Linked DNA regions of Homo sapiens: all the other regions are linked to region 3. Evidence: fine-mapped expression QTL. A gene starts in region 3. Each other region holds a variant in brackets. All regions are shown on one strand. Distances are from middle to middle.

Evidence for each region.
Region 1: its variant is fine-mapped to the expression of CRMP1 in testis (GTEx, PIP above 0.99).
Region 2: its variant is fine-mapped to the expression of CRMP1 in tibial nerve (GTEx, PIP above 0.99).
Region 4: its variant is fine-mapped to the expression of CRMP1 in lung (TOPMed, PIP 0.95).

The regions. Positions count from the first base shown.
Region 1 is chr4:5,709,718-5,717,807 of GRCh38, forward strand. It overlaps EVC (EvC ciliary complex subunit 1), which reads left to right and starts at 1,484. Exons shown (of 21, transcript NM_153717.3): 1 at 1,484-1,837. The coding sequence starts at 1,664. RefSeq lists silencers at 1,443-1,492, 1,543-1,692 and enhancers at 2,163-2,232, 2,818-3,127. The variant C/G (reference allele first, on the strand shown) is at 3,625.
Region 2 is chr4:5,814,686-5,822,788 of GRCh38, forward strand. CRMP1 (collapsin response mediator protein 1) reads right to left here. Exons shown (of 14, transcript NM_001014809.3): 14 at 6,079-7,166. The coding sequence ends at 7,075. It also overlaps a transcript of EVC not described here. Among named protein-coding and RNA genes, the nearest start is that of CRMP1, 74 kb to the right of the region's middle. The variant T/C (reference allele first, on the strand shown) is at 3,555.
Region 3 is chr4:5,889,834-5,897,936 of GRCh38, forward strand. It overlaps CRMP1 (collapsin response mediator protein 1), which reads right to left and starts at 3,253. Exons shown (of 14, transcript NM_001014809.3): 1 at 2,756-3,253. The coding sequence starts at 3,136. It also overlaps a transcript of C4orf50 not described here. RefSeq lists enhancers at 370-1,114, 1,115-1,858.
Region 4 is chr4:5,910,383-5,918,485 of GRCh38, forward strand. It overlaps a transcript of C4orf50 not described here. Among named protein-coding and RNA genes, the nearest start is that of MIR378D1, 8.9 kb to the right of the region's middle. RefSeq lists an enhancer at 2,239-2,864. The variant T/C (reference allele first, on the strand shown) is at 3,133.

The DNA.
Region 1 (8,090 bases), 180 kb before region 3:
ACATTTAAAAAATCTCCTTAGTATTTTTTATGGAGTCAGGGTCTCACTATGTTGCCAAGACTGGTCTTAAACTCCTGGGCTCAGACAATCCTCCACTTGAGCCTCCCAAAGTGCTGGGATTACAGGCGTGAGCAACCACACCTGGCCCAAACACCACATTTTAAAAACTAAAGCCTAAGCATTCATGGAAATGTAAAACAAGAGCGTCAAGTTATTGCCCCCATACATGTCCCCAGGAACCTTGGAGATGCTTCTAAGGTAATATATAAGAAGCTCCACATAGCAGAGAGTTTGCCCTGAAGCCAGACACAGGTGTAAATGAGACAAGAATTCTGCCCCACTCCTTAATTGCAAATGAGTCACCTCTCCTCTCCAGCTGTCAGTTTCTTCATTTATTAAAAAAAGATGAAGAATTTGGATAACAGTTCCCATCTTGCCATGAGGAAATGATGAAACAAACTAGAAACAAGCTGGACATCTAGGCTGAAAGGACAAAGCCCTCCTCTGCTGAAGCAGATCCCCATGGTGTCCCCTAGCCCGGCCCACACAGGGAATTAAGCTCCACAGGGTAGGTGTGTGTGTGTGTGTGCCCCTGAGTGCAAGTGTGCAGTCGTGCATGTGCATGTGTGCTTTACCCAGGCACCCAGGACAAAAGCAAACATCTAGTAGCTACCCCATAAATGTTTGTTTAAAGCAAACACAGTGATGAACTCCTTTAATTTTTTATCACTCTAAACAACTGTGAGATACTCACTAGCCTGGACACTGCCTGGTTTGTGGCTGGCCTATCCCCCAGCCTGCAACACACACACAACAGATTCTCTCCAAGTGCTGAGTAAATGAAGGATGGTGCAGTGTCCTGGTCCTAGTGGGGAGCGGGTGTAAGGGTCTCTTTATCCATTGTCTCAGTGGGGAGTGGGTGTAAGGGTCTCTCTACCCTTGGTCCTAGTGGGGACTAGGTGTAAGGGTCTCTCTACCCATCGTCTCAGTGGGGTCTGGGTGTAAGGATCCCTTTACCCATCCTCCTAGTGGAGACTGAGTGTAACGGTGTCTCCACCCATTGTCTCGACCTTCCCTGGGACAAAATAAGATTAAAACAGGAGTCTTCGCGTGAGCAAGTTCAGAGGCGTGGAGGGCGGTGTGTTCCCGGGAAGGTTGATGGGTAGAGGTTAGGGGCAAGGGCAGGGGGTTGGAATTGCATTGATCCCAGCGTCTTCATCAGGAGGATGGGCGGAGCACCCACCGCAGAGGGTTATTGAGAAAGTTAATGAGATCATTAAGCTAAATGCGTAGCATATTCTAAGCCTCAAAAAACTTAAAGGAGCCTTCTAAGCCTCAGTAAAGTTAAAGGGGTGGAAACCGGGCCCCCCTCCGGAAGGGTCCGGGGCTGGGAGGCGCGTCTGTCTCTGGGCATGCTCAGTGCAGGGGCAGGGCTGGGGCGGGGGTGGCTGAAAGTTTTGAGCGGTGATCCAGGCTCCTCCCTCCGGCTCGGCGAAGCAGGGAAGGGGAGAGAAGCAGGAGTCGGGAGACTGCACAGGCCAGAAAGTCTGCGGAGCGGGCCGCGCCCCTGGCCCGCCCGGGCTCCAAGTCCCGCGTCGCCGCCCTGGCGGGGACGGTGCAGCAGGCGGCGGGATGCGGCGGGGCGGCAGCCTGAGCGCCCCGGATGGCCCGCGGCGGGGCGGCCTGCAAGAGCGACGCGCGGCTGCTGCTGGGGCGGGACGCGCTGCGGCCGGCGCCCGCCCTGCTGGCCCCCGCCGTGCTGCTGGGCGCCGCGCTCGGCCTCGGCCTCGGCCTTTGGCTTGGCTGCCGCGCGGGCCGCCAGCGCACGCGACACCAGGTGGGTCGGCCGAGCAGACAGCGGCGGGGCGGGGAGCGCGGGGCGCGTGGCTTCTGGGTCCTGCGGGCCCGGAGCCCCGGCTCTGCGACTCCTTGAGCCTGGTTGGGAACTTCGCACGCAACCGCTTAGGCGTCGGGTTCCCCTTCTGCTCCAGGAGGGAGGTGGCGGCGTGACTAAAGGGCATTGGCCTGGGGTCCCCTGCGGTGCCTGTTACATCCCACTCCGTTGGGTGATCCTTGACAGCAGCCCAACTGCGCCACGCCTCGGTCTCCTCATCTGCAGCACCAAGGGTTTGGACAGGACGCTGGCCCTGCTCGCCATGGTGGACAGAAGGACGGCTGGGGCTCCCACGCCTGAATGCCTATTCCTGCTTCTGCCTCTTCCATCCTTGCGGTGTGGGTTACGTCGCCTGGCCTGAGTCCCAGCTGCCACATTGGCATTCATTTTTTCATTCACCCCACAGTAAAAGTTTTCAGGCACCTTCTACAGCCAGTCACTGGCCTAGGGACGACATTCATGAGCGGGAGAGACCCTGCCTTGAGGCTGTGAACCTCAAGGAGAAGGACGAATTGCAAGTTTGCAAGTAAACTATCGGTTATGACACCGCATGGGGAGTCTGCGATGGGACGCTGGCAATGCTAGCGTTTATTAAGTGCTGTGTACCAGGCACTGAACTAGACCCTCTCCCTAAATGATCTCAATGAATCTCCACAACAGTTTGTCTCTGCTTTGCAGATGAGGAAACTGAGGCACAGAGAGGTTAAGCAACTTACTAAAGTGACAGAAGTGTCTAACCCCAAAGCCACTGTGTTCTTCATGGATGAGGGTCGGGGTGGCTGCCTGAAGGAGACCAGTGGATGCTTCCTATGCAAGTGGCCCTCATGGAATTGGCTGTGCATGGCAACACCTGGCATATAGCAGGCATTCCATGAATAGTGGTATGGCCACTATTTTAGGTCCTTGCAACTTCTGCCTCTTTGGGGTGGGAGGAGAGTAAAGTCTGCGCGATCAGAAACAAGATGGCGTGGTCTTGCTACCCCCATTTCTGGCCCGTGGGAAGATGAGACAGATCTTGTGCGGTTTCCATGTAGGCACAGGCTCTTTCAGAATATAGGGGAATTTGGTGACTCATGGGGAGCATTACACCGCAAAGAGCTGATGAGGGCTGAAACTGAGATAATGCAAGATGCTCGTAGGTGAGTTGGGGGTTGTCAGATCCTGCTGGTGATTAAGAGACACTAAGAGATGCTGGCTTGTTGCATGGAGAGAGAAAGGGAAGTAACACACAGAGACTTGGCTGGGTGTCCTGTGCAATGTTTATAGACATCTGGTTCTTTATCCTCCAGCCCATGAGGTGGAGGAACTGCCATTATCCCCACTTTACAGTGAGGCAGGGGATGCTCTGCAAGGGTGTTTGTCCAGGGTGCCACGATGAGTAAACAGTGGGACTGAATTTCAACCCTAGTTGGTTTGAACCCCAAAGCTAGAGCCTTAAGTATCTGCTACCTGGTGAGGTGGTGGTTAGTATCCCATTTGCTAGCTGAGTCAGCTGAGGCTTACCGGGATTAACCAAGCCATCTGGGTTTGCACAGCTAGTCAGTTGAGGGTGATGGTGGCTCAGACCAGGGTGGCAGCCATGGAGGGGTCTGTGGCTCAAAGTAGGACTAATAGGATTTTGTTACAGTTTGATGTGATCCTTGCGACAACCTTCTTTCTAATGAGATTCTTTTCCTCCTGTCTCCTCCCTCTAGTTTTTATTTATAAAATGTATGTCAGACAATATGATT[C/G]TCCTGATTAAACACCTCCAGTGACTCCTGGCTGCCTGCAAAAGATAATGCCCAGGCTGGGCACTGTGGCTCATGCCTGTCACCCCAGCACTTTGGGAGGCCAAGGCGAGCTGTTCAACTGAGGTCAGGAGTTCGAGACCAGCCTGGCCAATATGGTGAAACCCTGCCTCTACTAAAAATACAAAAATTAGCTGGCATAGTGGCAGGAGCCTGTAATCCCAGCTACTCAGGAGGCTGAGGCAGGAGAATCGCTGGAACCTGGGAGGCGGAGGTTGCAGTGAGCCAAGATCGCACCATTGCACTCCAGCCTGGGCGATAGAGCAAGGCTCCGTCTCAAAAAAAAAAAAAAAAAAAAAATTAGAGACCAGCCTGACCAACATAGAGAAACCCTATCTCTACTAAAAATACAAAATTAGCCAGGTGTGGTGGTGCATGCCTGTAATCCCAGCTACTGGGGAGGCTAAGGCAAGAGAATCGCTTGAACCCAGGAGGTGGAGGTTGCAGTGAGCCAAGATCATGCCATTGCACTCCAGCCTGGGCAACAAGAATGAAACTCCATCTAAAAAATAAATAAATAAATAAAGATAATGCCCAGTTTTCTAGCATGGTGCATACAGTGGCTTACCTTCCCCTGAGCACCTACCCTGATGCACAGGTGCCCAGCCACTTGCCTCATCCTGCTCTCCAGCCACTCAAGACACCTCGCTGTTCCCCGTACACCTCTGCACTTCTGCACATCTGTTCTCTCCGCCTGCGCGGTCCTTTCTTAGACTCTATCCTGCTCAGCCCTCAGGACCCAGAGAGATCACCTTCTTAACTAGGGAAGCCTTAACCTTCCACGCTAGATCAGGTACTTCCCTGCTTTGTAGGCACTGTTTGTTCTCCTCCTCTGTTCCAAGTCACAATTTTATCTTGCATTGCTTTCCTTTTGCTGTTTTTGTTTTATTTTGTTATTTTAACTTATTTCATCATTAAACCTGTTTTATTTACATCAAAGTTGTTCATGCACATAATTTAAAGTATTAGTTCAAAAGGAGCAATAGCCCCACCCATTTTCTACTTCTCAACAGTGGCCTTGTTAACTCTTTCAGCTGATTATTTTGGGAATTTACTTCCCATTTCTAAATAATGTGCCTATATTGCTGCTGCTTGCATTTTTTTTTTTTTTTTTTGGCTGCGTGCAATAGCCGTTGACCCTCCACTGTGGAAAGGAAGAGGACTTAGCTCTGTTGCCTCCCTTCCTCCATAAAATGTCCACTCTTCCCAACACCACCACCACACTCTCAATACGGAGGTTATAGGGGAATTTGGTTAAATTTGTATTCAGTGTTTCCATTATTACAATTCTACAAACATTATCTACTGCAAGTTAAGGATCAGTTGTGGTCATGAATACCTTCTTTTCTTGCACAACATTTTGTTTTTCCTGAAATTAATAGCTATTCTCTTTTTTTGTTTTTTGTTTGTTTTTTGTTTTGTTTGAGATAGGGTCTCACTTGATTGCCCAGGCTGGAGTTCAGTGGCATGATCACAGTTCACAGTAGCTTTGACCTCTTGGGCTCAGGTGATCCTCCCGCCTCAGCCTCCCAAGTAGCTGGGACTACAGGCTTGCACCACCATGCCTGGCTAATTTTTTTTTTTTTTCTATTTTCTGTAGAGTTAGAGTTTTGCCATGTTGCCCAGGCTGGTCTCAAACTCCTGGGCTCAAGCAGTCTTCCTGCTTTCACCTCCCAAAGTGCCAAGATCACAGGTGTGAGCCACCACATCTGGCCTTGGTTTTTTCATTTGCTTAGATTCTGTGTACTTATCATTCATTTAACTCTCCCCCACATATGTGCGTTTGTGTTCAAGACATTTGAATGCATTAGATATTTGATCCATTTTATCTTCTTGAGAAAAATATCTCTCCCAGAAACATTCTGACAAGCTCTAGTTTGAGCTGGTTATTCTCTAGACAGCTCTCTAAAGTGTGGACCAGACCAGCAGCATCAATATCTTGGGGAGCTTGATAGAAATGCATATTCTTGGGCTCTACCCCAGACTCACTGAAGGAGAATCTCTAGGGATGAGTCCAGCAAGCTGTGTTTAATAAGCCCTCCTGGTGATTTACATGTTCTTAAAGTTTGAGAAGCAGCTACTCATCATGCTGGGAGTTTCTCACGTCTCTTCTGGGTTGAATCCTGTTTCAGGGATTCCCTGGCACTCCCCTTTTGTTAGGTAATTTCATTGCATGCCTGGAGCACATCCTTCAGTAGCTTTTTCAAAAAGGGATGGATGCAACTCTTTTGAGAACTTCTATGTCTGAAAATATATTCTTCTATCTTTATACTTAATTTGGTAAGAATAATTAGATTGGGAATAATTTTCCTCCAGAATTTCGAAGGCATTTTTCCATTGTCTTTTTTTTTTTTTTTTTTTTTGAGATAGAGTCTTGCTCTGTCACCCAGGCTGGAGTGCAGTAGTGCAATCTCGGCTCACTGCAACCTCCACTTCCTGGGTTCAAGCAATTCTTCTGCCTCAGCCTCCTGAGTAGCTGGGACTACAGGCATGCGCCACCATGCCCAGCTAATTTTTGTATTTTTAGTAGAGATGGGGTTTCACCATGTTGGCCAGTCTGGTCTCGAACTCCTGAGCTCGTGATCCACCTGCCTCGGCCTCCCAGAGTGCTGGGATTACAGGCGTGAGCTACTGTACCCGGCCTCCATTGTCTTCTAGCTGTTGTAGAACCAAACTGGGTTCCACTCACCTGGCACAGTAAGACCAGATAGCGACACTGAGGTTTTATAGTGGTAAAAAGGGAGGTGTTTATTCACAGTGCACCAAGCCAGGAGGACTAGGCAGCTCATGCTCAAATCCTGACTGCCCTGATGACTTCCAGGTGAGGTTTTTAAAGGTAGAGGTAAATTTCAGGAAAGCAGAAGTTACAGGCAAAATTGTAAATCAATACATGAAGGTGACAACTGGTTTTGGCCTAAAAGGGCCAGACATCTTGAAGTGGAGGCTTGCAGGTCAGAGGTAGATTCAAAGATTTTCTGATTTGCAATTTTGTGAAGGAAGAGAAGCTTTGTTTTAAAATGTAGGTTCGGCAGAAAAGAACCTTAGCTCAGGCTCCTGGTCATGACTTCCTCTGGGCTCCCCAGGAAGAGCTTTAGAACAAAGAATGGTGCTCAGAGTTCAGATCTCAGATAAGGGGCAGCTGAGGACCTCAGCCATGGATCCTCAGAGTGGATCCATTGGATGGGGGTCCAGGTTTCTGAAAAACAACTCAGGGACATATGTTAAGATGTTATCTTTAGTTTCTGCAGGGAAACCAAACATCTCCTGACTCTAACTTCCTTGGCTATTGTTTTAGGCGACTATTACCTTCTTGCTTATCAAGTTGTTGATAATTTCCCTTGAAGAAAGTCAGGATTTTCCTTTATTTCCAGGCTTAGGGCAAGGGATTTGCAGGCCCTTAAAAAGGGGGGACTCTGCTTCATCTCATAATTTCCATGGTTGCTGTTGAGAAAACTGATTCTATTCTGATCCTTGATACCTTACACGAAACCTCTTTTCCTTTTGTTCCTCTGTAGAATCTTAAAGAACCTTTACCTTTGCTCCTAGTAAATGAAATTGCACCACGATGGTGTTGGTGAAAGTCATTTGTCATCCACGGTGCCAGGCATTTGGAACGTCCTTTTGATCGAGAATCATTTTCTTGATTTCTTTGATGATTCTTTTCCTTTTATACGTTTTCTTCTTCCAAGAACTCCTATCACTTTTTTAGGTTGAATTGGGCTTCCAATCTTAGTCTTTCTCTCTCACTTCGATTCTCTTTGTCTTTTTTACATTATCTTTGGAGAGATGTTTCTCAACTTTATACTTGTATTGAGTTTTTCATATTTTCAATTTTGAAGAGTCATTTTTTTGTTCTGAGAATGTTCTATCCTGTCCTTATTTTATGAATGGAATACCTTCTCTGATCTCTCTGATAATATTTTAGTTGTTTATTTGTTTAAAGTTTTTTTTCCCTGTGTAGTGCGTTCCCTGCTTGCTTTTTCCTTTTGTTTGTTTTGGATTTTATCTTTCATATTAGAGTCTGTCCTCAAATGGCTAGTGACCCTCTAGACATTTTCAAGTGATGCTGATGCTCCCTCTGTGGGATATATATATTTTTTCCTCAATGTCTTTACTGTAGGACTATCTGACTGGGTTCTTCTTTGCAGGACCCTTGTACTGGTCTGCTATGGTTGGTAAACAACCCCCCAAATCTCTGGCTTCATCATCCACCCCAAGACCCACGACAGACTGCTGCATCTACACAGGTTTCTCTCTATGCCCAGCATGGGCCTGCCTCCAAGGCCTTTGCACTTGCTATTCTGTCTCTAGAATGCTCCTCCCTGAGATATCTCAATGGCTCATGGCCTCACTTCTTTTAAGTTCCTTCTCAAATGCCGCTTTGTCCAAGAGACTTTGTCTCCCATCAT
Region 2 (8,103 bases), 75 kb before region 3:
ATGGCCTCACATGGGCCACACCCCTGCCCCCCACTGGGCCTTTGCTCATGATGTGCATTCTTTCTGGAAGACCCCTGCCCCCCTCCCCAGCCCTCTGCCCAGTGGCTCCTAGCCACTCCTCACATGGAGTCAGGACTCACATCTCCAGAGATCCCCCTCTGCCCCCAACCCTGAACAACATCAGGGCCCCCCTTAGATTCTAGGTCCTGTGTTCTTTGCTGCTGGGACTGGGGTGAGGTCGGTGGGGGAGCATATAAATAACCTTCCTTTATTTCTTGTCCAAGTTCATCACTATACACAGAGGTGTACAGTGAGACCCACATAAACAATCCCACTAAACCCAACTCAACTGGCCCTTACCCAGATCCTCCAAATGTCCCAGGCCTCCCTAGTGTCACCTGATATGCAGTGGCATCAGCAGGAAAGGGAACAGTGGTCTTAAGGATTGCAGCTAAAAGATCTGACTGTGGCATTGTAAACTGTAAGGAATGTGTCAGTGAACCCGTGGCTAAGCCCACTCCCGGGTCTCGGTGGGGTCTGTGCACAGGTGGCAGAAGTGTGAGCTCCATGAGCTTTACAGTGAATCAGCTGTGGGGCACAGAGGGCAAGCTTTTCCTCCACCCTACGAAGGCTCCTTGAGAAACAATTGACCAAAGGCAGACCAATAGGAAAAAGAAAAGCATTCCAACGTAACGTGCATGGCATGGGGAATTGCAGGAGAGTGATGACCCCACAAACCAGTGAGGTCCAGGTGCTTCCACACCCTCATAGGGAGACGGGAAATGGGGGAAATGTGGCCGTTTAGAGGGTAAAGCGTGATTTATAGGGGGAACGAATCGATCCAGAGGCAGGCACTGTCTTGGGAGTGATCCTTCCCAGACTGGCCAATCAGGTATTTCTCCTCCTCCCCAGAGAAGAATAAAAGAGAGAGGGAGAGGGGCCAGGGAAGTCCCTTGTGCTGTCCCCCAGAGAGTGGAAGCCCCTCCCTCTATGGAAACCAGAGGAGTGGGAGATGGGATTATTCTCCCCTAAATGTTTCCTCTATAGCCCTTAACAGAGTGTGCAGTTCGGTGCTTTGAGTAATCATTTGATTCGCACCTGACGTCCCCCCTGGAATGTACACCATTGACCGGCCACATGCCACCTGGCATATAACAGGCATTCATGGTCACCTGGTGGAAGGAAGGGAGGGAGGCCTGGGAATATTCCTTTCCTCCTGTGGCAACTGGTTTGGAAGGAAGGGAGGGAGGAACGCTGAGTATATACTTTCCTCCTGTGGTGTATGGATTGGAAAGGAAGGAGGGAGGGAGGGAGGCCAGGAATACTATTTTCCCCCCATGGCTTATAGATTTGGCTGTGTGTCAGCATTACCCAGGGGCTCATTAAAAACAACATTCTTAGCCCCATCCCAGAGATTCTGAGTCAGCAGATTGGACAGGAGGCCTGGGGATCTGTTTTTTCCCCACTGGGCTCCCGCTGATGGACTTGGTCCACTTCCTGATGCACCTCCTGCCCACCGACATAGCCTGCAGTCCAGCCGCTGGACTTAGTCTGAGGTGAGCTCTTCATCCGCCTTGTTCTGGCTGTGGTGGCCATGAACATGTACCTCTTGGGTCCCCAACGGCAAGGAGCAAAAACGACCAACATCCTTGGGATTTCCTGCCGTGCTCAGAAATCCTTCCCTGCGTGAGCATGGAGGCCACACTTCCTGCAGGGTGCTCCCAGTGCCTGCAAGAGGCAGGGATGTGGAGGCCTCCTTAGCCCACATGACAGGGCTCCTCCAGAGGACAGCCTGGGCCCCAGGACTTCTTGCTCTACCTGCTGAGATGTAGAACTGTGCAGCACCAGAGTCTTGCCTCCCTCCCTCCTTTCTACCCTCTCTTCACTCCCTTCCTCCCCTCCCTCCCTTCTTTCCTTACCCCCTCTGTCCTTCTTTTCTCCCTCCCTCCTTCCCCTCTCTCCCTTCCCTCCCTCCTTCCCCTCTCTCCCTTCCCTCCCTCCCTTCCCTTCTCCCCTCTCTCCCCTCCCTCTCTCCCTCCATCATGGGGCTGTCAGCTGCATCGCAAATCTGTGGGCTCTGCCTCCTCTGGCTCTCTCCTCATTTTGCCTCACAGATATGTCCCCCAGTACACATCTTGCCCACATCTAATCCTGGCTCAGTGTCTGCGTCTCAGAGGACGTGGACCAAGGCACTTGCCGTCTCAGGCTTAGTTGACCCTTCAACCTCCTGAGAACTCTGGGCCCAGGCAACCCTAGAGAACTGACTCCTGTCCATGTTCTCCTTTCTCTGGAAACCACTTAGCTGCCTCCGTCATGCTCTGGGCAAAGGCAGGGCAGGTTGGGAGAAGGAATCAGTGAGGCTGAGGCCCCAGCCTAAAGGTCACAGGGCCGCCTGGCCCAGGAGAAATCCCCTGCACCAGGCATTTGCCCACATGGCTACAAGTGAACGTTGGGATACGGAGTGTTCTTTTTTGCTATGAAACTGGAGTCATGGAGGTCCTGGTCGACATTCTTCCTTCCAAATACAGTGGCCTGGATGGGGGAGGGCAGTGGCTATAGAGGCTTCCTGCACCGTGTCGGGGCTCTTGTCCATTGCAAGCTGGGACCCCAAGCTACCCACGTGGTGTTTGGCTCCCGTCTGATAGGGAAAGACTTTGAAGTCCACATCCAGGCATAATGGATAGCCAGGCTGCCTAAGTGGTTTGATAGATCTCCCAGAAAATTCCCAGATGGACTCTGGACGCACAGCCATGCCACAGCTTTCCTCCTCTTGGGAACAGACTACCAGTGAGAGGCTTTACTCTGAAGCCAGGTGCACCAGGGCCCCTGTGTCTTTTCCTCTAAAATCTCTGCAGGTCTGCACTAAGAGAAAAATAGAAAGTTCAACTTGCTAAGAGCCCCTTTTGCTTAGGAAACTTCTTTTCATGGTTTTTCACTTCATAAATGGACTTGATTGGAATGAACCTTTAGGCAAATGACACTGTCAATGGGCATCACGGCCACACTCTGCCTTGGAAAGAGTAACACAGAGGAGGGTTACGCACTTACGTCAGAAGAGTAGCTCTGTTGAGTCTATAGAGATTTGGCCCCAGGATAAGGGTAGCACCTTCTCTTGTCCACTGTCTATGATCAAGGTGGCCAGACCAACCCTGGGGGCTAGAACATGGTAGACCCTACTGGTGACATCTGAAAATGGTTTGGCTTTACGTAGATGAAGGAAAAGTATGTGCAAAGACCTTGCCCATTCTGTCTCACTTTTTAAGAGTCAATATGCAATCTGGAGGCAAAGATAGACAAACCAACTGATGTGGTTTGGCTGTGTCCCCACCCAAATCTCATCTTGAATTGTAGCTCCCATAATTCCGTGATGTGGGAGGGACCTGGTGGGAGATAATTGAATCATGGGGGCAGTTTCCCCCCATACTGTTCTTGTGGTAGTGAATAAGTCTCAAGAGGTCTGATGGTTTAGAAGGGGAAACCATTTTCACTTGGTTCTCATTCTCTCTCTTGCCTGCCATCATGAAGACGTGCCTTCTGCCATGATTGTGAAGTTC[T/C]AGCCACGTGGAACTGTGAGTCCATTAAACCTCTTTTTCTTTATAAATTACCCAGTCTTGGGTATGTCTTTATCAGCAGAGTGAGAACAGACTAATACACCAACAAATGCAGAGGGGCCAGAACCACCCCTTCCTGGGACATCAGAGCCAACAGTTAAGTGGTCTGGATTCCAAACTCATTTACTTAATGTCGATAGGTTGAAATTGGCCATGGCAAGAGACTTATGTTGAAACTTAATACCCAATGTGGCAGTACTGAAAGGTGGGGCCTGTTAGAGGTGATTGGGTCATGAGGGCTCTCCCTTCATGAATGGATTAATTCATTCATAGATTAATGTATCAGTGAGTCAGTGGATTAATGGGTTATCATGGGAGCGGGACCAGCAGCTTTATAAGCAGAGGAAGCGAGACCTGAGCCAATACACTCAGCCCCCTCACCATGTGATGCCCTGCACTGCCTTAGGACTCTGCAGAGTCCCCACCAGCAAGAAGGCTCTCACCAAATGCACCAGCACCACCCCAACCTTGGACTTCTCAGTCTCAAAGTCTGTAAGAAATGAATTCCTTTTCTTTATAAATTACCCCATCTCAGGTATTCAGTTACAGTGATGCCAAATGGACTAAGACAGAAAATCGGTAACAGAAGTGGGGTCCACAGAACTAGCAAACACTACAAACAAGGGCTTTCTACCCCACCCACCTTCACCCATTGTTCAACATTGATTTGGCAGCACACTTCTGGACCACTGAATCAGAAGGGTCAATCACCTGACTTACAACAAAGGCCCCACTGCATCTTAATGGGGGAAAGAATAGTCTTTGCAATAAATGGTGTTGGGTCAATGGGAGATCATATGGGAAATGGAGAACCTTCAGTCCTACCTTATATTGTACATAAAGATTATTGAGAGATGGCTCAGAGACCTAAATGTGAAAGATAAAACTTCTAGAAAAAACCCAGAAGACTACTGTGGTAGGCAGAATAACGCTCCCCGTCCCTGCCAACAAGATGACCACATCCTAATCCCTGGGCCTGTGAGTATGTTATGTCACATGGCTGGGAGAATTGGGTTGCAGATGAATGAATGAGAATAGCCTTCCCCTAAAACTTTCTGAGAAACTCTCTCTCCCTCCTCCCAAAATCTCAAGAGGTAAAAGGAAGTCACATGCCTTAAAAGGAGTGTTGCAGCTCAGTCTCCAAGAACTAAGGATTATCTGAGCTACCAGGTCTCCTGTCCCCTGTAACTGTGCCTCTTGGAGGCGCTGGGGAACCCAAAGTTCGACATGGGCTCTAGATTATGCTGGTTGGACAGTGGCTCCCATGACCTGGGAGTCAGGCAAGCACCCCGTCAGAGTCTGTCTTAGAGAAGGTGCTAGGGCTGCTTCTGCTTCCACTTCCACCCTGACAGGACTGAGGAGGCCAGGCCCAGAGAACAGGCTGGATAACTTCATCCTGCCAACTTTACTTTTCTGGAAGTTTCCCTTTAATAGTCCAAATGGGCCAAAGCCGAACATCAAAAATCCTTACCATCCGTTCTTGGTCTTTCCATCCAAAAATCCTTACCATCCATTCTTGGTCTTTCTCAGTAGTTAGTTAACCTTGTTTCAAGGAAGTCTATAACTGACCCTGAGCCAACACTTCTTTCAACCTTGACAAAGGTATCCACACGAAGCCGAGGAGCGGGGGAGGAGAAGGGTACATGAAAAGCCCTGCGTTGATGTGGGACCAGAGCATCCAAAGCCATCTGCCTCAAATGCCCTTGGAGCTCAGTAATTAGGAGCAAGGAGCTTTGGACTAGGGCCCAAAGTGCCTGGGTCCTGGATTCAAATCCTGGTTCCATCACTTCCTAAGTGTGTGATCCTAAACAAGTTATTGATCTCACTCTGAGTCAGTTTCCTCATCTGTACAATGGGGATAATAATCCCTACCTCATAGAGCACCTGGCATATAGCAACTGCTATACAGCTATCAGCCCATGTATTTGTTGTCATTACCAGCAACTTCATCACTATCACCAACACCACCATCATCATCACCACTATCGTCACCATCATCACCATCACCACCATCATTACTGTCACCACCATCATTGTCATCACTATTACTAACAACAGCTAATGGAAGCAAGCAACTTTGCCTGCTGTTTTTATCCGTCCTTTAGTGTATCTCTAGCTCATGGAAATGGAAGGAAGAAATGTGAAGTTTAGGAGATTGGAGCTTCCAGTCTGAGGCTGATCCATACAATACAAGAAGAAAGAGAGCCAGGAAAGGCCCAACAGGAGGGAATCAATGCAAGATTTGAGCCTATTTTGTGGAAGCCCGCCCATCAGCCGTCTTCCCTCTCTTCGCCTCCTTGGGTCTCAGGAACTCAGCCTTCAGAAGTCATGAACTGAATCTCTCCTCCCACCCCCACATCCACCAGTCTCTACCAAGAGTGAGTCCTCAGGAAGCAGCCACCACCATTCGTTATCACGCGGGGGGACTGCCAAGCATTCGTACCCAATCCAGACACCACCACTGAAATGAAAGTGCCCTAGTCAGGTCAGTGGGCAGTTCATTTTCTTTATTTTTTCACAAGCTTTGAATTCAGAAATAAGAGCCACAACAAGTTGGTTGTTAAGTAAAAATGGGAGTGATTACAAAGGAAAACTTTGTACAAAACTTTAAAAATCTGACTGCCCCGTCAACTGCCTCAGAGGGACCAGGACTCAGGCCACGCAGGGGCAGCCATCAGCCCCCCATCGTCAGCCCCGAATGGGGATGGGGAGACCTCTTTCTGAGTGTGAACCTGGCTCGGCCTGAAGCCTAGAGCTGGCTTGAAGAACACACACAGACCAGAAGACAGCACGGTGAGTTACAAGTGCCACGGAGACCAGGGTTTCTGACACAGGATGTGGAGGATGCTTCTCTGCAACCTAGTGCAAGGCTTCCCCTGCCATTCCGAGAATTCACGGATCTCACAGGTGGAGGTGGGGCGAGCTTCTTTCTAGTGTGGACCAGAGGTGGGGGCAATGAGTAAACATCTTCACTGTAAGGGTTTTGGGACTGCCCCTCAGGGCTTGAGGTCTCGGCATCGTGTCTCAGTCAGTCCTTGGCGATGTCCCCTCAGACGCACTCACAGACTTGCATACGTAATTTAGTAACATGCATCAACTATCCTAGAACATCTACAGGGTGCAAAGGAACCACCACTCAGAGAATCATGGAGCCAGTGGAGTTAGAAGTGGAAGGGACAGAACAAGACAATGCTAAAACCTGTGGTTCACTAGGAAGGGGGAATGAAAACACCATGCTCCGAGGTGGATTCAGCATGAACACAACTGTGGGGCAAGGAATTTCCAAGCAAACACACCACACTAGTACCACTTCTTCCTAAACAGAAAAGGGAAAGAGCATCCTTCGACTTCCCCCTCCCTCCATCAGCACCAACTAAAACTGTGGGTTTCAAAAACACTGACAGGAAAAGGGATGGACATGATTCCCAGAATCCTTCAGGCTAGCTCCTCCGCGCATCCACGTTCAACCGAGGCTGGTGATGTTGGAGCGGCCACCAGGGGGCGCCACGATGCGGTGGCCGGTGCGCCTGGGATTGTTGTCATCTATCTGGGCACCTGAAAGAGAGCGCCAATCGCTGCTGGATGGGATCTGTTAGCATCAGTTCCACGCTGCTCCTGGAGGCCATGTACTCTGCCATGCACTCCACTGGACCCACCTTCATTCAGGGCTCAGTCCAGGACCAGCCATGGGAAGCCTCCCTGGCCTCCACAGAGTCCACTGCTCCCTCTTCTGTGCCCCTCAGTCCCTGGGCTCCCCCCACCTTCAGCCCTGACCACCTTGTGGTGTTCTTGTCAAAATCCCCAGTAAAATCCGACATTCCTGAGACAGGTGATCAAACACTTACTGAGTGCCTACTGTGTGCAGGCGCACATTTGGTGCTTTAACATGTTACTGCATTTAGGGCACACAATCATACTATGAAGGGGGTGTTTGTACTCCCAACTTACGGGTGAGCAATTTGAGGTTCAGGCCACGTGTCTTGCGGGACACAGGTGTTGGGTGGGGAAGCCAGGATTGAAGCCCAAACTGGTTGGTTTTCAAAGCCCATGATCTTAGGCACACTGTCCCACACTCCAAAGGTATTTTACATATTGTGTGTGTACACATTTGTATATGCATGTGCATATGTGTGTGCATGTGCATGTGAACTCCGCAAGCTGGATTTACTTCCCTCATTGGCGATAGGTGGATCTGAAGGGGGGGGGGGTGGTGTGCAGAGGTTCTTAATTTTAATCTTTCAAAACCAACCATCCATTCTACTTTTACCTATTCTCTTGCATAAAGATGTAAAATTCTAGCAGCAAACCCAGTGCCTGGAGCTCAACAAATATTTATTAAATGAGTAAATCATGAAGGGTGGATAATGCTGAAAGGTGGGAAGGATAGAGTCCTTATCAGGGAGGGGAAGTTGAGCCGGCGGAACTGAGGAAAATCAAAAAGAGAAAGCAAATAAGCTGTAAGTCTGCCTTTCTTCATGGTCTACAACACAGC
Region 3 (8,103 bases):
AGACACCTGGGCCTTAAAATAGAGGTGAGGTTTTAGCTTCACAGAGAAGCCAGCTCAGTATCCCAGGAACACTAGGCATAATTTTCCCATTTTACAGACAGGAAATTGAGGCTTACAGAGGTAAAATGATGTACCCCGGGTGCAAAACATATTAGCTGCAGCAAAGCAGCATGGAGATGCCAGGTTCCCCTACACTCTGTTTACAACTCATTTCCCTCCACGCATTCATGCATCCCTGGCTCTCAGCGGGGCCTAAAATCCCTGTCAATGACCGGAAATTGCAGATGGGGACACTGTCCCTCCCCAACTCCTACACTCCCTTCCTTGGAGTTGTTAAGTCCTAGGTTCCCCGTACCAGGGCGTTCCCTGGGGTCAGTCTGGAGATCTGAGCAGAAAGCCCCTACAGCAAGGGACAAGACCACGTGCGTATCAGGGGGAGGAGCATCCGCCTGCCACTGGCCAAACAGATCGCTGCTCCCAAGCAGATTTCGCCGGTACAAAGCGCCGCAGCCGCTCAGCCTCCGGCAGCGGCAATCCTTGCGCCTGCGCCGCAGAAACCCCTCCTGCAGCCCAGGGAGAAGCCTGGTGGGCGGGGGGGGAAGGGCCGGGGCACCCGTTGCGAAGCCCTGGAGCGGTGAGGCCCGCCCCGGAACCCGAGCCCACTGTAACCCAAGCCTCAAGGCCGCTCTGCCGGCAGAAAGTAAAACCCTCCCTCCGTGGAGATCGCGAGCCCCTGAGTTCCACAGTCGCGAAGCTCGAGTGCTTTCGGAGCCCCGGGAGCGCCAGAGGCGCTGCCTTTTGTCCGGTGCCTGAGAAGCCATGGAGAAAGGCAGAGGGGACCACAGGGAGAAGAGGAAGGAGTAGGGGAGAGGAACGGGAGAGGTGAAGCGACCAGCGTCCCCAAGGGTCAGGGCGCAGCTGCGGGGCTGGCCCAGGCTGCGCCCTGGGGGAGATGCTGGCGTTGGTGACATTGACCGCAGTTCCAGAGGAACTCTCCTTGGGACAGCTACGGGCCGTGCACAAAGCGCCCTCGCCTCCCTAGTACTCCACCACGCTTTGAGGAAGGCCGGAAGAAGACGGCCACCCCCATCTGACAGATGGAGAAGCTGAGGCCCAAGAGAGCAAAGCGCCTTGGCTGGAAACCCGGATTCCCTGGTGCTGGTCCCGCTTCTCGGCCCGCGGCCCAGAAGCCTCCCCATCGGGCTCGGGAGTTTGGATCCCAAGAGAGGTCGGACCACCAGGGAAGGTAGTGGACAGGGGGAGATACAGAAGGGGTGGGGGAAGAGGAAGCTGGACTCTCGCACCATCTCCCTTTCTGATCACCCCACCACCACACACACATACACACACACACACACACACACACACACACACACACACCCTTGCTGTTGGACCTCTCCCTCGCGAGGCTCCGGCTTCAGGACCACGGAGAGCTCTGGAGCAACAGCCCGCCCGCGAAGGGATGGGGCCCGAAGAGGCCCACCACCGTGTTTACCAGTTCCCTGCTCCTATTCCTCCAGGAAGCCCTCCCAGATATCTGCCCCGATCAAGCTCTGCTTCCCTCCAGGCTCACTTTGGGTCACTCATAGCATTTAAGAGGGGAAGGTTTAATTAAAATGATAATGATTGTAATAAAAGTCAACAACAAACATTTATTGAATGCTCACTACCGACCGGCATTAACTGATTTAATTCTCACAATGAATCCGTCGCTCACCCTAGCCTGGGAACTTCTGGAGGGTGGGGCCAGGTTGCTGAGCCAGGGACCTAGCGCCTACCCTGGGCCTGGCACCTAGCAGTTCTCCGGCATCCAGGTCTGGACCAATTCGAAAGCTCCCCAGCCCTCGGATGCTCCAACTTCCGTTTTTCTGGCACCTGACCCTGGCTCTCGTCGGTCCATCCAAAGGCTACGCCGTCCATCCGCCCTTCTTCCCCCAGTTTCCTGGTGACCCCCAGCTCAAGAGAGAATACCCGCAGGGCCCAAGCCCTAGCGTTCCCTCTCCCTGATCCTCCCGGCCCCATGCTCAGGTCCGGGAGGCCAGAGACCCCAGTTCAAATCCCAGCTCTACCTCCACCTTGCTCTGTGAAGCAGGCACATCGGTGTGTGCTGTGGAGCTCAGGAGTGCCCCTTGAATCTACTGGCGCTTGAGGGTAGGGGTTTACGGCTCCAACTGCCCGACGAACTAAATCCTTAACCAAATCCTTCCCCCCAGCAAGCATGAGGGGAGCGCTCGGAAAAAAAGCTCCTTCCAGCTTTAAGCTGTGTGGCCGCAGGCGACTCGCGGAACCTCTCCCGGGGCCCGGCACACAGTAGGTGCTCTATAATTACTACCGACTGAGTGGATGGATGAATGGACCAACACGGAACGGAGCTCCAGTTCTTTTCACAAAACAGAATGAGGGGCCTGGGTTAGATTCATCCCAGAGGTTCCTTCGCGTTTAAGCGTCCATGCGGTAGCTTTAGCCAACTTCCCCTCTCAGAACCTCTCTCCCTTTCTGTAGAAGAGGAGCCGGGACTGGACCCGGGCGATCCCTTCCGAGTCTCACGGACCACGCCGGCCAGCCCCGACCGAGTCGCCCCAGCTCTGGGAACCTCTTGCATGATGAGGTGGGGGAGGGGCCGCGCCGTGGCTCTCCCCAGCCTGGCGGCCGCTGCCCCAACACCGGGGCCCGGGCATGGCCCTCGGGCGCCCCATGCCCTGGGTCCTCCCGGGGCCCGCCCCCCTCGTCTGGCCCGCGCGCGCCCCGAGGGTACCTGGCCATTGTCCCGGCCGAGGGGCAGGTCGCGGGGCGCGGGGCGGCGGATGCGCAGCGTCGGCGGCCGCTCGTCGCGCTCTCCGGGAGAGCTGACCGCGGAGCCCGAGGGCTCGCTCACGTCGCTGGCCGTGTCCTCGCTGCCTCCCGGCCCTGGCAGCCCGACCGCGTCGGGCCGGCCAGCGCTGCGCGGCGTGCGCGCCGAGCCGCGGCGGCCCACACTGTAGGCGTCGAAGTCGATGGTCTTGTTCTCGTAGGCGCCCTCCACCGCGGCGAACATGCCGCCGTACTTCTGGCGCGGGGTCTGCGCCGCGCTGCCCGGCCGCGCCAGGTACACGGGCAGGTCGTCCTCGGTGTTCCACGCGCGCCGCCGGTCCGCCATACCCGTCCAAGGCCGGCCACCCACCGCGCTCCCGCCTGCCCGCCCGCGGCCCTGGGCACCGCCGTGCGCCGCGCTCCGCGCCTCGGTGCGGGCCTGCGGCGGCCCGGGCGCGACTGCGGCCCAGGGAGGGGAGGGGCGGGGCGTGGCGCGCGCCGGGGCGGGGCCGGGGCGGGGCCTCTGGGCGGCTGCGGGCTAGCGGCGCGGCCAGCTACAAAGGACCAGGAGGCGGGGATCGCGGCTGGGGCGGGGAGGGACGGTGACGCTCCCGAGCCGCAGCGCGGAGGGCGGGCCGCGGCACCGCAGTGCCCTCGCCGCACCCCCCACTCTCCGCCCCCAGGCGGAGCGCAGGGCGCGAGGAGAGCGCGGGGCAGGAGCCGTGTGCGTACACTCGCGCGCCCACACGCTCTGGAGGCACACGCGGGTTCATACCTGCACACCAGACAATTACGCCAAACACATGAGAGATGCACAGACATGCTGGCACACACACGAGAGTCAATCACACATGCTCTCCAGAGATACACAGGGGCTCGATCATGCACACCATACTCAATGTTGCACACACATACACATATATGCTTGTGCACATTCCGAGTTCATTACAAACACACAACAGAAATCCTCATTGTCTCACAACCCCACTCACACACAGTATCACACCAAGATTAATTGCACAACTGGAGAGGCACATGCGTTGGACACACCGTTCATTCCGTCAGTTTTATTTTGCTGAGCGCCCACTAGTGCCTAGCACTGTTGTAGGAGCTGGGAACAGAGCCATGGACAAAAGAGACCAAGTGCCTGCCCTCCAGGAGCTGACCTGCTAAGGAGGGGAATTGGATACAAAAGCACCCATATGGTGGGCCAAGAGGTGGTAAGGGCCAGGAAAGGTGGTGCAGCAGCCAAGAGGGACATGCTAGAGGCACACTCCGACAGACACATAAGAGAAGCACATTCTTGCATGAGAATCAGCGACACACACATACACGTGCACGCCAATGACACCACACAACACACCAATATCAAAGGCAAGCTCAGGGCGATTCCACACATGTGCATCATAAACTGGCAACAGGATGCCCACACACAAGTCCACACCAGTAATAAAGGAAGTCAAAAGCTTAAATAAAAACGCTCCAGAGAAAGACACACAGAGACAGAGATGACCACACACACACAGCTGGCAGTCAACCAGACAGACAGATATTCCCTCATTCGAGGGGCACAGTCCACTTTTGTTGCTCCTGGAGCTTGCAGTCTGGGCGTTCTGGGGTTTCTCTGTCGTGGAGGTCGCTCTGCTGGGGCTCTCCTCTAAGGCCAGGCACCACCTGCCTCCTATAGACACCTTCCCTTATTTCTCCACGATTATCAGGCAGAGGATCCTGCAAGTCCCTGGGGACCCTACAGTCCCAGCTGCACTTCCTGGAGAGGCAGAATCGCCAGCTGCCGACCCCCTCCTCGAGCCAGTCTAGACAAGCAAAGTCAGGACTGGGTGGGGACTGCAGAGGGGAGCATCAGTGCTTCTTGCAATGTCCCCCCACCCATAGCCTTCCATGCTGGGAGCTGTCCCTTCAACCCCGGGCCCTGCCAGCTGCAAGCCAGAGCTCCCGCAGCGTGACCAAGCTCCAGGAATACCAGACAGACAGATGGATTCATGTTCTTGTTTTATGACTCTTGGGCCCCATGGACTGAGGATCCTGGGGCCGTCGGATCCGTGGCCTCAGCTGACACCTCCCTGAAGCTACTGTCTTTCAACCCTGCAACAAGGGGTCTGTGCAGCAGGTAGGTATTTTTACCGGCCCCCTCTTGGAAGAGGAAACAGGAGGGGAGATGTGAAATGGCTCCCTCAGGGCCTCAATCTCAAGGAGGTTCAGCCAGGCCTAGAGCGTGGGCTCATCCACTCGGTGGGCATTTAGCAAGTTATTTTTCTGTGCTTGAGAGAGAGGCTAGTGTGGGGACACAGATGAGTATTTCTAAGTCTCTGTCTTCAACAAGTGTTTACTCTCATGGGGGAGAGAGTGCTGAATGCGAGAACAGAAAGTTCCACACACAGCCTCCATCTACCTTCCACCCACCGCAGCTGCATCCTGGCTCCTCTCTCCTTGTGTCCCTGGGTCCACTGTGCAGATTTGCCACAGACACTCCTCTTGAGGCCCATCAGCCTCCAGGCTATCTTGCAAGTGTTTTCGATTTTTCAATGAAAATTTTTCTCTGTCCTGTGAAATACTATTCCCAGCCCATTCCAGGCAAGAACAATTCATGTCGAAAACCACATAGAAATTTCTTCTAAAACCCCACAAATGTTCAGGGTGACATAACCCAGAGAAATATCAGAAAACTCAAAAGTCTGAGTTAGGTGGAACTTTGGAGGCCAGGCCTCCTACTGCATGCTTGAATCTGCTCTCAACATCTTGAGGACACAGTCTCTCAGGCTTTGTTGGTGGTGATGGAAATCTTACTGCTTCTAAAGAAAACCCTTTCCATTGTGAGAAAGGGCTGGGCAGTTGCCAAGACTAGAGGGAGTGACGCAAGGAAGGAGCTGAGAAAGTGCTGTCTTTATGCAGAAGCAGGAAAGGATCTTCATAGCTTCTGCTTATAGAAAGTTTACTACGTGCCCGGACCATGGTAAGCACCTAACAGATAGTAACTCTTTTATGCCTCGCAGCAACCTTGAAACTGCCATTTTAGCCTCATTTTACAGATGAGAAAACTGAGGTTCAGAGACATAAATAACCTGTCCAGGGTCACAGCTGGCAAGTAAGACTTCGAGGTTTAAACAGAGTAGTCTGGTGCCAGAGTCCACATCGAAACAACTACCCTTTCCTCTCCCCAAGAGCCTGACTGAGGTGGTCCCACTGGGAGATAAGAGATAAAGGGACCTAGTTTAGGCAGAAGAGTCTAGGTGGTTGAGTTAGAATCCTGTTTTGCATGCAGTCTTGGGCAACTAATCATTCGACATTCATCTAACACACCTTTGTGGCGCCCACTGCGTGTCACTGACTTTATATCACTTCCTCTCACTCTTTTCTCCCCATGCAGAGGAGGCGATCGGACCCTCCTGAAACTGCATACTGTGTATAAGGGTCCTTGCACACACAGTTCATTTCCGTGCATCATGCTCTGCCTTATACACTGCTGGCTCCCTCAGGCAGCCCCACGTGGCGAACCAGGCCACTTCCATCTTCAGGCTGGAGCGCTGAGGATGACAAACCTTAAGCCCATTGCTCAGGTTAACCACCGGGAAGTGACTAACCTGGGATTTCAACTCAGGTTTGTCTGAGTTTTTTCCACACCATCTCATCTCAAGGTCAGTAACCCAAGCGCAACAGAGAAAGGGAGGAAGGAAACAAAACCCAGGGTATAAAGTTGGAAATGCACCCTCCAGCTTGCACGGAGACAGAAAGGAGCAATATTTGCCAGGGACCAACAGAGGCAGCAGGGGAAGCCTGAGATAACTGCCCCCATCCTGACGACAGCTGTGACCTCCCCCATCCCCCAACCCATCCTCCAACTGCTCCTAGTCCTCCTGGGAAGGAGTTCTTATAAGTGAATTACAGCACTACATTTGGTGAAGGACAAACCTTGAGCTCATCATGTCAGACATGAAACCTTCTTCCTGGGTGATGGCAGAGAACAGAAAGGGACACGTCAGATGGGAGAGGACAAGAGGCCAGTTCAGGTCCGATGTGGATTTTGTTTCGGCAAACCAAAAAAAAAAAAAAAATTCGTTCATTCATTGCAAAAAGAATGTTTTCAAAAAATGAAGGAAAGGGGATTGTAGTTTATCATCAGGTATATAGTAATGGATTATTGTCCTCATCTCAGATATAAGAAAAGATGTTCAGAGAAGTTAAACAAGTAAACATGTTCGGTTACATGGCCAGCAAGTGACAGAGATGCAGTTCAAATCCAGGCTCATTTGATTTTTAAATGTCTGCTTTTTTCTGTGGCCTCCAAATTAGTACATATGGGACTGTGGTGGGCAGAATAATGATGCTCAAAGATGCCCACACCTGAATCCCTAGAACTACTGCCCATGTTACTCCACATGGCAAATGGGACTCTGTGGCTCTGCTTACAGATCTTAAGATGTGGAGATGATCCTGGATCACCTGGTGGAGCCAGTGTCATCACAAGAGTCCTTTTAAGTGAGAGAGAGGCAGGAAAGTCGGAGTCTGAGAACGGGAGATCAGAGAACAGAAGCAGAGGTCAGAGTGAGAGAGATTTGAAGAGGAAGGAAGGGGCCACAAGCCAAAGAATGTGGGCAACTCCAGGAGCCAGAAAAGGCAAGGAAACACTTTCTCCCTGGAGCCTCCAGAAGGAAGGCAGCCCTGCCAACATCTCGGTTGTAGCCCAGGGACTCTGACTTTCAGAACTACAAGATAATGAATGTGAGTTGTTCTAAGGCAATGGGTTCATGGTCATCTGTCAAAGCAGCAATCAGAAATCACTACATGATTATAAAGGAAATCATTTAATTATTTGTGCAAAGTGGATTTGAGTACCAAGAAAAGCATTTATTCCCCACCAAAAATCAAGGGAATCCTAGCTCCATTGCCTTTTTCTGTTACGTCAGGGTCGACAACACTTTGTAACAAACCATCAATAAATAAAACATTCAGAAGGGAAAAAAACCCTTTAATTGTGAAAAAGCATACATTTTAATGTACAAAATTACACAAATTATACATTTAACTCACATAGAAAAATACATCTCAGTAACAAGAGAAAATGCCGGCCTATTTTACACAAATGGAGCGATCATTACAAATCCTGAAAACCCAGAGGGAGGGTTGAGCCCGACCCACAACTGGTCAGGAATCCAGTGAACATCTCCACGGACTGATGGTTTCACTGCAGGCAGGCCCCGGAGGATAGCTGCCCCAGGACCCGAGGCAGGTCCTGCTGAAGAGCTTCCGGAGGGGAGGTGTCGGGTCCTGTCGCTGGACCACTCCCGTGTGAACCAA
Region 4 (8,103 bases), 21 kb after region 3:
GCTTCAAAATTTAAGAATCTCGTCAATCTGTTCCATCTGGTCACTAATTTTTATATTTTAAGTAATGTTTGTGTTTATGATCCACATTATGCTATAAACAGAATTAATGTGAATTGTGGTGTTTTTAATTAACATACTAGTTATTCCTAAGGAATTATCTAGAGTGTGTCCTTGTATAATCAGTTGAGGAAAGAGATTTTCAAAGAGAAAATGACCCCACAATAATCACCCCACTCGATCATGGCTGAGCTTGGAGTGGCCTCCCCAGTTCCTCAACCAATAACCTCTCTACCTCACCCCCTGCCAGCATTCTTCAAGAATCTTCTATGTGTGTAGCCCTGGGCAAGAAGCTTTTTTGGTGTTTGAGGGGAAATAAGATAAAGTCCCTGCCCTCAGGTGCTCTCTTTTTTGTTGTTGTCAGTGGAGTGGGGGGGATACCTCTCTATTGAATTTGAAAGTAGCACCATGTCCCTATTTGTCTAACAGATGTTTCATCAGAGCCAATGGGTTTCTTCCCTTTCTTTCTTTTTTTTTTTTTTTTTTTTGAGACGGAGTCTCTGTCGCCCAGGCTGGAGTGCGGTGGTGTGAACTTGGCTCACTGCAAGCTCCGCCTCCCGGGTTCACGCCATTCTCCTGCCTCAGCCTCCCAAGTAGCTGGGACTACAGGTGCCCGCCACCATGCCTGGCTAATTGTTTTTTGTATTTTTTACTAGAGACAGGGTTTCACCATGTTAGCCAGGATGGTCTCGATCTCCTGACCTCATGATCCACCTGCCTCGGCCTCCCAAAGTGCTGGGATTACAGGCGTAAGCCACCATGCCCGGCCTCTTCCCTTTCTGTGCCTTTCGAACTTGTGGGGTTTTCTGGCCCTTCTCAAAACCAGAACCCCCACATCGAGTATCTGTGGTGGATGGTTGCCCAAACATGGATGTGTCCTCTGATGGGGAGCCCACCAGCTGTGCCAGGGAAGTCTGTTTCATGGACAACTCCAACTATTGGGGAATTCGTTCATGAGTGAAGTTACAATGAGACTTGCTAGAATGTGTGTGAAGCCAGGGAGGGAATGCTTCACATGTCACTTACAACCCCAGCAAGGGATCCCTTTACAGAGAGGGGCCTCTCTTCAGATAGGTAAGCCTGGTTCCCTGGCTGCCTACAGGTCCATCAGAATGACAAAACATGCAGAAAGGCCCAGCTTGGCCTGCTTCACCACTCAAGGTGGCAGGATCCATTTTGCCTGCCCCAGATAAAAAGATGAAGAGGAAACTTGCTGCTCTCAGGCCCTGGTGGGGAACAGAAATAGAGAACCACAGTGGTGAGCTAGCAAATGTTTAACAACTGGCTCTCAAAACAAAAACAAAAACAAAAACAAAACAAACAAAACACTAGGCGTGGTGGCTCACGCCTGTAATCCCAATACTTTGAGAGGCCCAGGCGGGCCGATCACAAAGTCAAGAGATCGAGACCATCCTGGCCAACATGGTGAAACCCCGTCTCTACTAAAAATACAAAAATTAGCTGGGGATGGTGGTGCATGCCTGTAGTTCCAGCTACTTGGGAGGCTGAGGCGGGAAAATCGCTTTAACCCCGGAGGCGGAGGTTGCAGTGAGCCAAGATTGCACCACTGCACTCCAGCTTGGGTGACAGAGCGAGACTCCGTCTTGCAAAACAAAAAAACAAAAAACAAAAAAACCACACAAACAAACACAAACAAACAAAAATACCAGACCTGATTTTCGGCATTTTTTAATTTCCGTGGTGTAAACACTCCTACTATGGCTGATTTTAAGCTGCTGATATGTTGGTAAGAGACGCATGCAATTGGCTCTCAAAAGGCATGCAGGAAGAGCCAGCTCCAGTCTAGCACTCCACTCGTGTGTGTGTGTGTGTGTGTGTGTGTGTGTGTGTGTGTATTTGGGGAAGACATACATGTAAGAATGAATGAATGGATGCATGAATGAATGAGAGCAGGATACCAATTTTGCAAATGTAATAGGAAAAAATTGGAATGAGGAAAATATTTTTATAACTGCAGCAGATAGGCCTTTATGAAGAAAAGGAGCTGGGATGAGTGTACAAAGCATTTTCAGCAGTGTTTCTACCAAATTACTTTCAAGGAAATGTATCTGTCCTTGTAAAAGGGGTATGATGGTGAAAGAGTGCACCAGTGTTCTAAAATGCACCCAGTATTTTGTTTTAATAGGGTATGGTAATGTGACAGACATAGAGACAACTGTGTTTGAAAGAAGAGTTTATTACTCACAGTTCCCTAGAGGAAGGGGCATGCCACACCATGCAAGGCCACAGAGGGAAGCAGGAGGCAGAGGAGTGCAGAGAGAGCCTGGCCCAGAGCCTTTATTGTGAGTTCTGCAGGAAGAAATGGGTGAGGCAGGGGAGGCAAGCCTGAGCATGCCCAGTACTGGAGAGTTTTAAAATTGTTGCATGCTCTGGGTTATATTTTTGCATGTTCTCTAGTTGTTTGACACCTGGGCCTGGGATGACATGTGGCAGGGGAAATGTTGGCTTGGTATGTTAGATAAAGGAGGAGACTGGAAACCTGCCAGGCTGTAGATTGTCTGGCTTGCATATGAAAGGCGTGCTCACAGGGGAGTCATTTCCATCTCTAGAAATTAGCCAGCCCTGGCAGGGGCCGTATCTCTCTGGCCAACAAGGCCCCAAGATGGCAAAACATCACAAACTATAGAAAATAAAATTTTATTAATACAACCAGCTTTGGAACCGACTACCTGTGTGGCCTAGGGCAAGTTACTTAACCTCTTTCTTCCTCAGTTTTCCCATCTGTAAAATGAGGATGACAACGCCTACCTTATGGGGCTGGTGTAAAGAAGGAGATACTCAGAGGCCTTAGCAATGGCAGAGCTGGCATCTGATCCTGGGAAACTACTGGAAACTCCAGACCATAGCTCCTTGATGAGGAGGAGGCCGTGTCTCTAGTGTTCTGCACAGTGCCTGGGGAATGGCAGGCAGGCAATGACTATTCTGGGAACACATTTTGAGTGAGGGTAGTGAGGGTCAGAGAAAGCTCTGGTGTGTAGAAATAGCATATACTATGAAACAGATGAGCCTGTTCAATTTCCATGAGCTTCCTAATCACATGGGGAATGGAAAATA[T/C]AGATGAGATAAAATGCTTTCTTCTCAAAATGCCCTAATATTTTGTTTCAATATCAAGATTCATTAGAGCCATTTCACTTTCGCTGTCCTTAACATTCCGGTCCAATTGATGGATTCGTTCAGGAGTCAGGGTCCCTTTGAATCTCATTACACTAGGGCTCCTGGGTGTATTGATCCTATTTAGAAATAAGGCAGTAAATCGTCCACAGACGTTGGGACCAAACCTCCAGGCTGCCAAGGGAAAGAATACAGAAAGCGGGGCTTTCTCGCTGCATTGTCTGCTTTTAATTTAACTTTTAGCACAAGTTTGAATTTCTGAACCAACAATAGGTATCAACAGCTTTAAAAATGTTTATTCCCTTGGAGACAATAATTCAATTTCTGAGAATCAATCTCCAAGAAATAGTCTTCTATGAAGACAAAGATTTATAGACAATGATAGTCATCTCATTACCCCGGCAGCCCAAATGTTCAATAACAAGGGTTGAGAAAGGTTCATGCTATGTAATCATGAGAAGTAAAGTTTATGAAGACAATGATAGCATGAAAAAATGCCTACAAGACTAGATGAAAAAGTAGATAAAATTGTATATTGACTATGATTATGAATATTGTATGGAAACTTACCCGCAGGGATAAAAAAGAATATGAGCCAGGAGGTTAACAGATTTTGTTTTTGTTTTTATGGGTGTTTTTTTTTTTTTTTTTTTTTTGGAGTCTCGCTCTGTCGCCCAGGCTGGAGGGCAGTGGCGCAATCTCGGCTCACTGCAACCTCTGCCTCCCGGGTTCATGCCATTCTCCCGCCTCAGCCTCCTGAGTAGCTAGGACTATAGGCGCCTGCCACCATGCCCAGCTAATTTTTTTTATTTTTAGTAGAGATGGGGTTTCACCGTGTTGGCCAGGATGGTCTCGATCTCCTGACCTTGTGGTCCACCCGCCTCGGCCTCCCAAAGTGCTGGGATTACAGGTGTGAGCCACCGCGCCTGGCCTTTTATGGGTTTTAATGTTTTCTTAACTGCTTTTCTCTGTGTTCTAGTTTTTCTGTAATAAGCATACATCACTTAAAATTAATTATCACGGTTTGAATTTTTAATACCTATATAAGTTTACCATGTCCTCTCTTACAAAGCCAGCAGATCTATCTGAAGAAATGTGTGCGATGGTGCTTCTCATTTTTCGTTTGTTAGAAATACTTAGAGGGTATAATGTCCTATTCTATAGCATTAAAGTTATTTGTACTTGATCTCACTTGGACATAATAACCTTGAGCTTGTTTTACAAGGCTGAGTCAGTAAGTTAATGTAGCCTGGGATTTGCTTATGCACACAGAAATTCAGATAAAAGCCATTTCCATCAAATCAAAAATCAGATGAAGGTGCCATCTCATAGTCTATTTCCCTACTAGGATAAATTCTCCTGTATTTCTAATGAGTTTTAGTTTAACCTTGATTGTCTGTCTGGTCACTTCCTTAATCCAATGAGTAGCTCAGAAAGTAATTACTCTAAATTCTACACCTAAAAATATTATCTTCAATATACAGGACAGGCACCGCAAATGTCTCTGCCCTGCTTCCAGTTCAACTCTCCTCCTAACGACCCTCCAGGGAATGGCCAGAGGGATCTTTCTAGACTGTAAATCTAGTTCTGAAATACCCCCTTCCTGGGTCCACCTGCCTTAAGAGCCTCAGTGGTCCCTAGGGCCATGCCAGGACCCCCTTCATCTTGCCTGTCAACATCACCATTTCCCATCATTTTGTCCACACGCTTTAAGGTTTGATCATATCCAGTTCCTGCCATTCTCAGACACAGTTTGTTCTTGATACCGTTATGTGCACACATGCTACTAGGGAAAGACATGGTTCATTAGCCAACCAACAGCTACTCCCAGTTCCTTTCTCCTTTGTCATCTCCTAGACTAGAGCTTGGAAAGAGGGACCTTGGCTCTCAGGTAGGAATGACCATGGGACACATTTGTGGGCATCCCTGGCCAATGTATGCTGGAGGTTTGCCTTTTCCTTTCGTCTTGGGACACAGTTGTGAAGACTAAAGCCACAGCAGCCACCTTGTGACATGAGGCAGTGACCACCAGGAAGAAAGGCTAGCAAACTGAAGACAGTGGTTCTGAAGGATGGAAAGCAACTGAGTGGTCGGTAGCATCACCAAGGTACCAAACCAGCCCTGATGCCATGCACTTCAGTCTCCCTGATGAGTGGGTAATAAACACGTGCTCGTTTCAATAGGATGTGTCCTGTTTCTTGCAGCTAAGCATCTCCTGCCTGACTCACTCTTCCATCACAGGAGGTAAGTTCAGTGCCTGGAACATTCTAGAAGCTCAATCCAGGTTACTTCCCTCTCCTCTTTTTCCTGAATGTTCCTTTTAGGCTACACTTACCTGCTGGGAAGTACACTGTACCTAGAACCATAGATTTCACTGAGATAGACCAGGTTTTGTATCTGCAGGCACAATTTGGCTGCTTGTGAAAGGAACCAAACTGAAGTTGCCTGGGCAAAAATGGCACAGGAAGGCAAGGCTAGTCCTGTAACAAGGGATGGGTGTGCAGCTACCACAGGGGCAGAGCTCAGCTCCACACAGTAGTGACCAGGGACCCAAGCATTGCCAAGAAGCCCTACCATTTTCCTGGTTCCTGTGGGCTGTGACTTCTTTCTTATTCTGTCCTGGCTTCCCTCACTGGACAGGGAACAGACGCACCAACAGCTCCTGGTTACTCTGGGGGGCCCATGCACAGAGAATCATAGTTTCAGAATGAAGAATTCCCATTGCCTTGCCTGGATTTTTTGTCTGGGTGTTGACCAATCAACTAGGAGAGGGGTGGGGCTTAACCACGCCGAACAGACAGCCTTGGGTCCCTGCCCACCACAGAGAAGGCTGGGAGCCAGGACCTGCCCCCAGAGCTCAGACCCCAGGCACTGGGTTGTTTTCCCTCACATCGCAGCCCACTCCCTTCTTCCCCAGGACACAGAGGAGAACCAGGTTGCCTTCAGGGCAGGGTGACTCACCCAAGGGCAAAGCTATTACTCTGCAAGTTTCTAAAAGCTGCCTGTCTTGGATTGGGCACCCTCAAAAGCAGAGCCTGAGACCCAGACAGGGGTGCAGGTGGTTTATTTGGGGGGAGATCCCAGAAGTAGGAGTGAGGGAGCAGGGAGGTGAGACAGGGAGGGCAGAGAAGACAATATCCAGATGGGTACTGAGGTCACTCCTGCAGGAAATAGGGTCACGGCCCCGAGAGCACTTCTGTGAAGAGCACAGAAGGCCTCGCAGATCTTCTGCTTAGAGGACAGGAGCCTCTGCTTGAGGTGGGCACAAGCAGAGTCTGAGCTTGCCAGCAACAAAGCACTGCAGCTGAGAGCAGAGGCAGGCTGGGGACAGTGCCATCGGGCCCAAACACATCACTATGTGGACTGAAGAGGGTGGAAATCCAGAGCTGGCTTTCCCTAGAAGTTGGAAGTTTCCCTGGTTCGACACCAAATTAGCCAAACCTAAGTAAAGATTTGGCCACAGGAAAGTGGATCCAAGATTTCCAGATCACGTACATCATGCCTACGCTACCAGAGGCCCCCACATTTTTTGATATAATTCTCAATTTGTATGACTACTGTATCCTTATCCCACTGTTATAGATGAGGAAGCTGAGGCTCAAGAGTCATTGAGTAACTTGTCTAAAATCTGAGAAGGTGAGCTCATTCACACAGCCCTGCTTAGCCAGCCTGGGGCTGCAAAAGCTAGACATTTTAAATCTTTAAAATAAAATGTGTTTGTGAACCATAATATACAGGAAAGTATAACTGAAAAATATACATGATCCTTCTTAAAAAGAATAACAACCTGAAGCCATTGATGCAGGAAAGTCGTAGGTTTCAATTCCTGTATTTCTTTTTTTTTTTTTTTTTTTTTTTTTTGAGATGGAGTCTCGCTCTGTCACTAGGCTAGAGTGCAATGGCACGATCTCGGCTCACTGAAACCTTTGCCTTCCGGGTTCAAGCGATACTCCTGCCTCAGCCTCCTGAGTAGCTGGGACTACAGGCACGCACCACCACATCCAGCTAATTTTTGTATTTTTAGTAGAGACAGGGTTTCACCATGTTGGCCAGGATGGTCTCGATCTCTTGACCTCGTGATCCGCTCACCTTGGCCTCCCAAAGTGCAGGCATGAGCCACTATGCCTGGCCAATTTCTGTATTTCTACTGAAAGCTATAGTATGTTTCTTTCTTGAGCCTTGAAAGCACACACCCAACCCCAGAAGGCATTTAATTATCAAGCACTCCAGCATTTCAGCTGTGCCCACCCCGGTCCTGGTTTGCACAGGTCATTAGAAGTCATCCTGCCTTCGACTTCCATAAATCATCCCAGGCCAAGCAGGGGCCCAGGCGAGAGGTGGCGTGCAATTGGCACAGAATGCAATGAGATGCGGCTGGTCATTCATCAGAGAGCCGGGGACTGGCCCGACGCAAATGACGACTAAGAAAAATGATTCTAGGGCCCCGAGGGTGAAGCAGGTAACGAAAGGGCAACATTTGATAAAGAAACTGTGCTGTCACTTCTGCTGTCAGGAAGCTCCGGGAAGAAGCCCTCAGAAACAGTAGGCCCCCCAAACTCAAAACTCAACCACAAGAAACAAAAGAGGAGGCGAGGTCATATCATACAACCACCTCCCACCGCAGCAGGGATGGTGAGCTTCAGTTATCACACAGCAGAAAGAACGTCAGCCAGTTCAAATCCAGGTAGCACAATTCACACCTCACGTCCCATTTCACAGATGGGGAAGTGGAGTCACAGAGTGGGAGGGCCTCGCTCAAGGCTCTGCATCTGTTACAGAAAGCAGTGCTGCTGGAATTCAAACCTGGGTAATTTCACTTCAGAACCACATTCCTAACTGGTCCACACCGTCACCTTTGGAAATAAAAACAACCCAATGTCCTCCCACAGTTAAGGATTTGCAAGTGGCTTAAGT